3 linked regions of the Homo sapiens genome follow. The protein of the gene in region 1 purifies or fractionates together with the protein of each later gene. This does not show direct contact. Each region holds a gene or a part of one and is shown on either strand. Other genes may lie near its edges.

Region 1 (4,328 bases):
TGGATCTCGGCTCACTGCAAGCTCCGCCTCCTGGGTTCACGCCATTCTCCTGCCTCTGCCTCCGGAGCAGCTGGGACCACACGCACCCGCCACCACGCCCGGCTAATTTTTTGCATTTTTAGTAGAGACAGGGTTTCACCGTGTTAACCAGGATGGTCTCGATCTCATGACCTTGTGATCCGCCCGCCGCGGCCTCCCAAAGTGCTGGGATTATAGGCATGAGCCACCGCGCTTGGCCAACAATGATTTTTTAGGGACGTGATTCAGCTCATAACATTCTGTACTCTGGACTCCCAAAATTCATGTCCTTCTCACATGCAAGATCCCTTCACCCCCATCCTAACATCTCAAAAGTCTTATTATTATTATTTTTTGAGACAGAGTCTCACTCTGTTGCCCTGGCAGCAGTTCAGTGGTGCAAAGACAACTCATTGCAGCCTTGATCCCCTGGGCTCAAGAGATCCTCCCACCTCAGCCTCCCAAATAGCTGTGACTATAGGCGTGAGCCACCATGCCTGGCTAATTTTTGTATTTTTTGTAGAGACAAGGGTCTTACTATGTTGCCCCAGGTTGGTCTTGAATTCTTGAGCTCAAGCAATCCTTCCACCTTGGCCTCCCAAAGAGCTGGGATTACAGGCCAGAGCCACTGCTCCTGGCCCATTTCAAAAGTCTTAATCCATTTCAGTATCAAACTCTAAGGCCCAAATATTACCCAAATATTATCTGAATCACATATGGGTGAGACTCAAAGTGTGGTTCATCCTGAGGCAAAATTTCTGTCCAGCTGTGAAACTGTGAAGCCAAAGAAGCTATTTGCTTCCAAAATACAATGGTGGGACAGGCACAGGATAGACCGTCAGCCCTGGAAACCACCCTTCTACTCTGTTACTGTAATTTTGATGTTTGTAGATTGCACATGTAAGTAAGCACATGCAGGATTTGTCTTTCTGTGTCTAGCACATTTCGCTTAGCATAATGTCTTCAGGGTTCCTGGATCCAGCCACGGCTGCACATCAGATCTTCACGGAGATCCTAGTTCCCTGACTACTGAGTAACTTCAGCCTTAACTGGCTTCAGCCTCACTGGCAAGACCCGATGGAGTCCACCAGGCTCGCAAAAATCGATTTTGACTTAAATCAGTTCAACTTGACAAGAAGAAAACATCTTAGTTTCCAACAGAAGTGGACCACAACTTTAAGCTTTGACCTTAAAGTCTAAAACATTAACTTAAAATAGGCAGGAAGCAACGCTGCTTCACAGGACAAGAAATAGTCACAAATACTCCTAAATCGGGAGAACAAAGACTTGCTGGGTGGAAGGCAGAGCGAATAACAGGCCCCGCCCACCAAACAGGTCCCGCCCACACCGCCCGTCCCGCTTAGCCCACCTGGCCCCGCCCACTACCGCATCAGCCTTGCCCCACCCTTTCAGGGTTCCCAAATCTGGCCAGTCTTTCTGCCCTTTCCCTTGCGGGTCGCACCCCGCCCAGGCCCCTCTCCCGCCCCAGGTCTCTCAGTCTTTTTTCTCAGGGCGTGTAGCTTCCTGCACACCCGGAAGCAGATCGCGCGGGGAAAAGATCACAGCGCTGCGCGTCAGTTTCCGTCTACCTGGACTAAACATTTGCTTCGCCCCGTCTGCCTGAATCGAACGTGCACTTGGCAGTCTTCCCTTGTCCATACCCGTTTCCTGGGGATCGCTACGGACCTTAAAATACCAGCAACAGCCCCTTCGCCCCAAGTAAGTCTGATAATTGCTTCCCTTTCGGTTTAAAAATCTCTCTGAGGCTGTTCCTTGCTCCCTGCCTTTCTGCCTTAGGACCATGTAGACAACCCCACTCAGGTCGTGTTCCTGCTTAAAACCCTTACTGACCTCTGCTTCGGCCCTGCGCCAAGTCGAGTCCTCACTCGGGAGGTGGATTCCCGCCCGTTGCGACCCCGGAGCTTCTCCGTCGTCAGCCCCTGGAGGGGAGCGCCCGCCGTCCGGCTCCTGAAGGAGTCGCTTCTCCTCCCAGGTCCTGGGATTCTGCAGACCCTCCCTGTCCTGAGACACCGTACCCCCTGCCACCTTGTGTCCTCCTCACGCCGGGTCCTTTCGCTCCCCAGGCTTCCCCTTCACAGCCACTGCTTTTCTCGATCCCCCCCTTGGGGGAGGTCACCTGAGTCTTGTGACACCCAGTGTTCTTCCTTCCCAAATTTTACTCCACTGGAAAATATGCTTTTCCGGGAGGTGGGCATCCTATTCCTCCCCTTTCTTACTGAATGTGTGGGTGAGAGGGATCAGGAGAGGAAAAGAAGGGGAGCGACGGAGCAAAAGGAAAGACCGAATAGAAGAGAATGAGGGAGACCCATAAATACACGGCAAAATGGATGATAATTTAGGGATTTGCAAAGAGACAGCAAGAGTGAAAGAGAACGAATGGAGAAAGAAGCAGGGGGAGGAAAGCACACAGAGAAATTTAGAAAAAAAGGGGGACCTTCAGAGAGATGAAAGGCAGCAAAATAGAGTGGGGCGGCAAAGGAGGAGGCACTGCAGACAGACAGTGGGGAGAAGGTGAAAGAGTTGGAGCCGCAGCCGACAGAGCTACGTGGTGCTGGGACTGAAAGAGAGGGAGAGAGGGCAGTGGGTGACAAGCAGAGTAGAGGGAGAACCACAGCAGGGAGGAAGCCTAGGGAGTTGGGGGTGCTAGAGAGTGGGAACAAAGGAGGTGTAACAGGTAAGAGGGAATTTTAACAAGGAGAGCAGAGAGGGAGCTCAGATGGGGAAAAAGAGGCGGAAATACGTGGAGATTGGGGACAATCAGAAAGATTGGGGAGAAAGAGCTACGAGAGGTGAAGTAAGTTGCAGAGCATCGGGCAGAACAGACATAAAGAGGAGAAAAACAGAAAAGGGGAGGAAAGGTGCAGAATGAGAGAGGGACACACACAATAGTGAAGAAAGTGGGAGAGGACCCCATCCAGATGAGCGATGAGTTGATTGGATATGGATGGTGGTTGTAATATTCTAATTTGTGACTTTATACTCTAATTTAAAATTCATTTCTTTAAATTGTACTCGTGAGGATGAAAATTACCACTCTTTTCTGTAAGGCTTGTGCATTTTGTATTTATTTGTATCAAAAGATATTTGGAATTTCTGTTTAGCCAGAGAGCATTTAAATTAAGTCATTCGTGGTAACTCTTTTCTTCCCTGGGATGGGGTAGAGGATAGAGTAACTGAGAAATGGGGCGATAAATGACTGTCACTGTCACTACAAGGTATGTCTTTTTTTTTTTTTTTTCTTTTTTGAGACAGGGTCTTGCTCTGTCAGACTAGAGTACAGTGCCATGATCTCCGCTCACTGCAGCCTCAACCTCCTGGGCTCAAGCAGTCTTTCTGCCTCAGAGTGCTGGGATTACAGACGGGAGCCACCACGCCAGGCCTACGAGGTATATCTTTGTATGAGTATTCAGAGTCTTATTTTTTTTTGGTAATGGATTTGCTTTTTTCTTTTTTTGGGACGGAGTTTCGCTCATGTTGCCCAGGCTGGAGTGCAATGGTGCCATCTCGGCTCACTGCAATCTCCGCCTCCCAGGTTCAAGTGATTCTCTTGCCTCAGCCTCACGAGTACCTGGGATTACAGGCATGTGCCACCACGCCTGGCTGATTTTGTATTTTTAGTAGAGACAGAGTTTCTCCATGTTGGTCAGGCTGGTCTTGAACTCCCAACCTCAGGTGATCTGCCGGCCTCGGCCTCCTAAAGTACTGGGATTACAGGTGTGAGCTACTGCGCCTGGCCTACTTTTTTCTTTGTAGTTCCACTTAATTCATCGTTATTTTGGAAGCTTGAGATAAGTGTTAGTTTATTCAATATCTGCCTTTCTATAAATAATTACTGACTTCTGAAATAAGATTTGGTGGCATCCTATAATCAGCTGACGTCATTCATTTCTAAATGTTAAGTATTGTCATTTTTTTAAACTTTCACCCTATAACTCATTAAATTTTTCAAAAACTTTCCAAACTGTTAAAGTGTCCAATACAGTATAGACACCACGGTGTACGTTAGATTCCCCTGAACTTCTTCATTTTATAACTGAAAGTTTATACGCTTTGGCCAACATTTTTCCATTCTCCCCACCACCAGCCCCTGGCAACAACTGTTCTACCCTGTTCCTATGAATTGGATACTTTAAAATTCTGCTTGTGAGGTCATACAGTAATTGTCTTTTAGTGTCTGTCTTATTTCACCTAGCGTAATGTCTTCCAGGTTCATCCATGTTGTTGCAAATAGCAGGAGAATCGCTTGAACCTGGGAGGCGGAGATTGCATGGTTCATCCATGTTGTTGCA
Region 2 (3,625 bases), on another chromosome or scaffold:
AGGCGCGTGCCACCACACCCAGCTAATTTTTGTATTTTTAGTAGAGATGGGGTTTCACCATGTTGCCCAGGCTGGTCTCAAACTCCTGACCTCAGGTGATCTGCCTGCCTCGGCCTCCCAAAGTGCTGGGATTATAGGCGTGAGCCACCACGCCCGGCTAACTTGTAAGTTTCTCTTAGCTTCCTGTACAGAAGGCTTCAGGTGCCGATATTACTGCATTACTCATACAGTAATATAGTCTTACCCCTTGCTGTTGTGGCAGTTGGTCATTCCAACTTCATGGCTCTGCTTCTAATATAACATCCCTGTCTAAAATGCAGACATACATGTGTACACTTTAAAAAAAAAAAAAAAAAAAAAAAAAGAACAGATCGTCTATGAGACCCAAATCACTCACGCTCAGAGGACATGTCAGGAATTCTGGTCACTGAAGTTCCTTGAAAAATAATGCTCAAACACCAGGGATTTCCTATGACTTCCTCATCTAGGAGATTCGTGAACTCAAGCTATTTTATCTGAAAACAGTTAAATCTAATTCCAGAATTTAATTCAATCATCACATCTGTGTATTGTCTCAGGGTCAATTTTTCAGTAAGAATTCCAGACATTTCTCTTCGTTCACATTACAGTAAACTATTTTTCAATACATTTCCTCCTTGACTTTCAAGGCTTGAAAGTCAAAGACTTTCCTTTCACTAGATCTCATAAGTCATAACTGCTCTCAACCAGATGCAGGAGTAATTTTGTATAAAAGAACAAGCTTTTTAAAGTCCAATAACTGTATCTTTGGGGGAAGGTTAAAAGAATGTTTAAATACAAAAAAGAAAGTAAAAAAAAAAAGAGAGAGAGACAAATAACTCTCCTCTAGAAAAAAGGGCTTGGGAGCCCTGGCTAGGCCAGGCAGGGAGGAAGCAATAAATAGGGGGAGAAAATGGCAATAAGACGTTATATAGCCCTTCTAACAAAAATACCAGAAGGGAGGGGTGAGGGACAAGGCTGTCTGAGGGAGGGCAGGAGGTGAGGCCATGGCTTGGTCTCTTTTGCGCTTGGATGGCCGTCAGCTCAGCATGAGGCATCTGAAAGAACTACCCAGATTGCAGAAGAGAGAGGTCCCAGCCTCCTTGGAAGGACATGATGGGGGAGGAGTGGAGACAACAGCTGAGTGTTACCTGTAAAACTCGAGAACAAAATGCTTCTTTGATTTGTAAACTTGCACTCATAAATACAATCTCTCAAAATAGAATTCAGTGGATTTCTCAACAAGTCTTTTCAACAGTGATACACAATATTCTTCCCTTTGGAATCGGTGCTGTTAAATAGACATGTACTATATAGCCATTTTCCAATGCAACATTAGAGTACAGAACAGGTATTCTGTGGCTAGTGAGTAATACTGCTGCTGTAGGGTGCATACACGTTAGGATCGGACGAGGATCTTACTCAGGATTGCATCGTAGTAGGGACAGAAGACCATCTTGTTATAGTTGACCAGGCGAGCAAATTTAATAGCAACTTCCTCCAGCTCTCTCTGAACTGGACTGAGTCCCCCAGGGACTGTGGGCAATGGCTTCTGATGACCCGAGGCAAGGTAGGTTTCTAAGAAGGTCAGGATTCGAGATTCTGTGACAAAAAAGAAAGTGGTCAGTTGTTTCTTGTCCTTCACCTTACAAACCTTACTGTGCTTCAGTTCTTAGCTTAACCATCACCTCTTAGGGGAAGTTGTCCCCGATCAATACTCCCAGACCAGATACCCACAGCACCTTGCACTTCTGCATATTCATCCCATTTATAATGTTTTCTCTCCCCTCTAGATGGTTAGTTTCATGAAGGTAGGAGCCATGCTCATCTTGTTCATCATGTCTCCTCAGCACTCAGCACAGTGACTGGCATGAGACCCAGCTCCCAGGAGAAGCTCAAACACACTTGGAATGCAAGAATGAATGCATGAGTGGCCAGGCGCGGTGGCTCACGCCTGTAATCCCAGCACTTTGGGAGGCTAAGGTGGGCGGGTCACCTGAGGTCAAGAGTTCGACCAGCCTGGCCATTGTGGTGAAGCCCCGTCTCTACTAAAAATATAAAAAGTAGCCAGGTGTGGTGGCGCACACCTGTTGTCCCAGCTACTCGGGAGCCTGAGGCACAAGAATCACTTGAACCCAGGAGGTGGAGGTTACAGTGAGCTGAGATCATGCCATTGCACTCCAGCCTGGGCGACAGAGCCAGACTCTGTCCCCAAACAAAACAAAACAAAAAAAATGAATGAATGCATGAGTGAGTAAAGGAAGACTGGAGACATGCTCTGCTCTCCGAGGAGCAACACATCCTGAGACCATTGTTAGCCATCGCTGACGATCACATAAAAAGGTGGAAGATTAAAGCAGGAATTACAGGTTCAAAAAAGACTTTTTTCCTACTAAGCCTCCATGAAAGCAGCTCGTGCTTCCTTCTCTGATGCCTGCATGGAAGTCATGGGCATTTGTAAACTTGTCCTACTTGGAGGAATAATTTAGGTTGATGCTTTTCTAGTCCATTCCCCTTCACAATGCTTTTGTACTCTTGTGTATCCTCATGAAAAAAGATTTGATCAAGCCACACTTCTTGCAGATTTTATCACAAAAACAACAGAGACATTTATATGGAATAGACTTTTTCAAACTACATGCCTTGCCTCCTGCCTGGGGAATCCTCTCAGGTGCAAATAACTTATACCCTCCTGAGCCTCACAACACAGACAGAAACTGCTGACAGGACAGGGCCTAACACCCTTACTCTTTTTTTTTCTCGAGACACAGTTTCACTCTGTCGCCCAGGCTGCAGTGCAGTGGCACAATCTCAGCTCACTACACCTCCGCCTCCCGAGTTCAAGCGATTCTCCCCACTCTGCCTCCCGAGTAGCTGGGATTACAGGCGCATGCCACCATGCCCAGCTAATTTTTGTATTATTAGTAGAGGCGGGGTTTCACCATGTTGCCCGGGCTGGTCTTGAATTCCTGACCTCAAGTGATCCGTCTGCCCCCGCCTCCCAAAGTGCTGGAACTACAGGAGTGAGCCACTGCACCCAGCCCTATCACCCTTCTTCTTTTTTTTTTCTTTTTTGAGATGGAGTTTCCCTCGTCTCCCAGGCTGGAGTGCAGTGGCGCGATCTCGGCTCACTGCAACCCCCGCCTCCTGGGTTCAAGTGACTCTCCTGCCTCAGCCTTCCGAGTACCTGGGATTACAGGCACACGCCACCATGCCCAGGAAATTTTTGTATTTTTTGTAGAGACGGGGTTTCACCATGTTGGCCAGGCTGGTCTCAAACTCCTGACCTCAGGTAATCTGCCCACCTTGGCCTCCCAAATGCTGGGATTACAGGCATGAGTCATCACACCTGGCCCTATCACCCTTATTCTTTTTTTTTTTTTTTTTTTTGAGACAGACTTTAGCTCTTATTGCCCAGGCTGGAGTGCAATGGCACAATCTCGGCTCACCACAATCTCCACCTTTCAGGTTCAAGCGATTATCCTGCCTCAGCCTCTCAAGTAGCTAGCATCACAGGCATGCACCACCATGCCTGGCTAATTTCGCATTTTTAGTAAAGGCGGAGTTTCTACATGTTGGTCAGCCTGGTCTCGAACTTCCAATCTCA
Region 3 (3,646 bases), on another chromosome or scaffold:
CTGATGGGTCTGGGTGGGTAATCGACCTGCCTCCATGTCTTAAAATGCCATTTATCTGGAATCTTCTTTTAATTGCACTAAGAACAGTTCATCATGTTTTTCTCAGAAGCCACTTGTTCCTTCCATCCTCAGTGCATCCCAGGCCAGCAGGAGCTTTGTGAGCTGCAGGCATGGCGATGGTGCGCCTGTTCCACACCCAGCAGGCGCAACCAGAGTCTCGTGTGTGCCGACCACAGGAGCCAAGCCTTTTCCACTGTGTGGACTCATGTGGCCAAGGCTAGGCCTGGTCACCCAGGACCCTCACCACGTGACCCCAGCCAATCGGGACAGTTCAAGGAGGAGGAGACCCCTATTACACAGGTTGGAATAAAATATTTAAATCTCGTAAAAATGTAACCCAAGGCTCTTTTAGGGTATAAAGACCATTGGCCACCAGGTCAAACACAACAACAGTAGTGTGTTAACCCCACACTCCTGTGTGGCCAGGTCGTCACACACATCCCGTGAAGAGCTGTCTGCTAAACACACAGCACGGACTGTCACAGTCCTGGTCTTGTGGTCCTGGTGACCTCACAAGCCTCACAGATGCGGTGGCACCTCCCAGTTCTCGGCCTGCCCATGTTCCTGTGTCCAGGCCCCATCCCCACCTGAGAGCAGGCCAGGGAGCCACCCTAATCTACACCACGCACATGGCACCCCTGGGCTCCTCACATAGGGAAAGGGTTGCTCACCCAAGCCCTTGGGCCTCTGAGTGGCCACACCTGGGGCTGCTTTGGTGCTGCTGGCCGTGGTTCTGCACCTCAAGCCCTATGAGCACAGCACAGGTCCCAGAGATGGGTGTGGGTTGCTACCACAGTGAAATTTTTATACACGTTCCCCTCACCAGCTTTGGGATGGATCAGCACGAGCTCAGACACAGAGACAAAGGTAGCCTCCTGCCCTTTGCCTAAAAACCCAAGTGTGGACTCTGCCCAGGCTCTCCTAAGACAGTGTAATTATTTCAAGAATGGTATTTATTTCCGACATTACTGTAGAGGCACACATTGGACTCTGACGATTCCCCTTGCAGCAGACATTTGTGAAGCTGCTGGTCGGCACACCCATCAATCAGTGACTCCTGCACTGCAGAGGGGCCACATGCACGATGCTCACGTGTGCACAGGGGGGAGGACAGCACCCCCACCAGGCAGACGGGCCCAGAAACAGCATCTGCCCAGCACTCCAGACCATGCCTGCCACCAGGGCTTCTCAGTTCTCTAGCATTTGAACCTCTGATTTAACATTCATCTCTCTCCAAGACTGGGTGGGGCACTGCCTGTGGCCAGACGTCTCCCACAGCAGGGACAGCACCAGGCAAGAAGGGGGCCTGGTCTCCAGGCAGGAGGAGTGCAGCCCACCTCCCCTCTGGCTGACCCCTGGGCAGTGAGCCTTTCCATCACCCCTACACACATCAGGCTCAGAGACAAAAGGCAGGAACTTCTTGGTACATGATTTTATAGGAAGCACATTTGTGTTCAAGTGAAGGCAGAGGCGTCCACCCCAAGTCACCAGAGCGCAGGTGCAGAGAGGAAAAGCTGTCAGCTAGTGCCAGCCTCCAAGGGCCAGCGCTACCCTTCAACAGCTGGAGGCACCACTGTGCGAGGCTTTCCACACCGGCCTCCCTCAGGAACAAGACATCCTCACCAGGCAGGGGTGAGGTATGGGCTCCAGGACTGGCTTCAGCAGGCACCAGGCTGAAGAAGAGACAAGACAAGCTCAGGCTGGTCAGCTCCAACACACACCATTCCCAGCCAGGGGACCCTCACCCCTCTGGGCCCTGTGTGGGGACTGACACGGTTCCTGCAGGAAACCATTTGTGCCGTTTCCCACACACCCGGCAGCCTGAGCTATGTGGCTGACAGGTGCTCATGACTAACGTGTCCTCGGAAGGGCACCCCATCTGGGGAGCGGGAAGGGAGGTTCACTGCACTGCTCTTAACCTGCATTCACACGTTTGAAATTTTTCCTAATAAAAATGTAAAAAGCACATTTAATTCCAAAGTCTGCTGTTGAGTTCAGCCTTTACACACACAGAAATGGGGGAGGCTGTGTCCTGATGCTCAGCCCATCCCCACTGCCCCCATGTATCTAGACATGGTTCTCCTCCTCCCTCTCAGATATAACCTCCTGCCGGAAGGAGGCTGAGAGGAAGGAGCCAACCCTGGTAACTAGAGAGACAGCACAGCAACCCTGGGCCCCAGCCCCCGAGAGAACTGAGGTACTTGTTTTTGTTACTTTAGAAGAGTGACGGGCTGGTGAGGTGCACAGGGGCAGCTTCTGGGGGCCTCTCACCCAGCCCCGGCCCCACTCATGGGAAGCAGATGAGGAGGGGTAGGGTGGCACTCTTGGCACTTGGAGCACAAACAGACCCCAGGGCCAGGCATGAGGAGCCTGGATCAAGCTGGTGCCAGCTCCACCCACTCCCCGGCCCCCCAAACGCCCCAGAGCAAGTGGCCTGGATGCCACAGGGGCCCACAGGTGTGGGCAGTGGCCAGAGAAGGCAGCTCTGCTGGTCCCGTAATCCCAGGGGTCCTGACATGAGACGAGGGAACGGGCCGTGTGGACGTGCTGGCAGAAGCTAAGCACAGCCGCTGGCCCCAGAACATTCCAGAGCTCAGGGAAGCACAGGCACCTCATGCTGTGAAGGTGACAGGGTTACCTGGGGCACCAGCTGGGGCCTGGGTACGCCCAGAAGGTCACACAGACGGTTGCGCTGCTCTCTCACCACTGCAAGCTCCGCGTCCCTGTGAGGAGAGGGAGAGCCGTGAGTCTCTCGAGTGCCCACCGGAGAACCTCAGGTGTGCGGAGGTCCCGCGTCAAGCTTCCATGGCCGCAGTCAGGGAAAGGAGACCTCACCCCCGACATCCATAGCCAGGCTGAGGGCAGAAAAGACGTCACAGGAGCACGTTCTCCAGCAGAGCCTCGAGCCTGAGCCCTTTCCGGAATCGCAGGAGGACGGTTCCTTCCCAACAAGGGGTGCCCCTCGGGAAGGACCACGCCCAGCGCAGGGACTGCGGGAGGACAGACCAAGCGAGGCCAAGGAGGGGCTGACAAGGGTTTTCCAGGTTTTAATTTAGCTGTTGATGCGAAATAAAAATTCTAGCAATGCTGTGGAGATATCTGGGGCATGTTTTTCGTTTCTAATTTAAAATATTCTCTTTAAATTCTAAGGATTTTTTTTTTTAACAGAAAGGGGATTAAACGATAGGAGAAGCCCCCAGGCCCACCCTGCTAGTTCCTCCCTCCCTGATGTGAGGAAAGGAGGCCACCCCGACCCAGCCTCGCTGGAGGAGGCCTCGCCCCGCTCGGGACACCTGGCTTCTTCAGTCCTAAAGCCAATTATTTTAGAATCTGGTCCAGAATGCACCTTGGTGTTTTTTTTTAAAAAAATCATTGTAAAAACGGGTCTCCAGAGCAGTAGTTAAGATGGCCATTCTCTCAACGCATGTTGAGAAGACAGCCCAGCTGCTCCCGGTTCCTCTCCTGGGACCACGTGTTTGTTTAGGAGCAGACACACACTCCTCCCCAAACCAGAAAACCTCGCGGAAGCCCTGGAGAGGCCACCTCTGTCCTCCGAGGCCACAGCGGCTGCCTGGTGCGTGAGCTC

The links.
Region 2: the proteins of ZNF836 (region 1) and TCP11L1 purify together in Homo sapiens (affinity purification with mass spectrometry, with the first as the bait; one large-scale study listed by BioGRID). This does not show direct contact.
Region 3: the proteins of ZNF836 (region 1) and TBCD purify together in Homo sapiens (affinity purification with mass spectrometry, with the first as the bait; one large-scale study listed by BioGRID). This does not show direct contact.

What each region holds. Positions count from the first base shown.
Region 1 is NC_000019.10:52,168,745-52,173,072, reverse strand, and holds the start of ZNF836 (zinc finger protein 836), read left to right. Parts: upstream 1-1,451; 5' UTR 1,452-1,737; intron 1,738-3,287; exon of another isoform or gene 3,288-3,291; 5' UTR 3,292-3,425; intron 3,426-4,328. UniProt on the Homo sapiens protein: May be involved in transcriptional regulation.
Region 2 is NC_000011.10:33,070,469-33,074,093, reverse strand, and holds the end of TCP11L1 (T-complex protein 11-like protein 1), read right to left. Parts: intron 1,621-3,625; coding exon 1,418-1,620; 3' UTR 544-1,417; downstream 1-543.
Region 3 is NC_000017.11:82,940,536-82,944,181, reverse strand, and holds part of TBCD (tubulin-specific chaperone D), read right to left. Parts: intron 2,784-3,646; coding exon 2,699-2,783; intron 2,693-2,698; exon of another isoform or gene 2,677-2,692; coding exon of another isoform or gene 2,128-2,676; exon of another isoform or gene 2,105-2,127; intron 2,034-2,104; exon of another isoform or gene 1,734-2,033; coding exon 1,719-1,733; 3' UTR 1-1,718. Other genes in the region: uncharacterized protein LOC124904095, read right to left, coding at 2,128-2,676.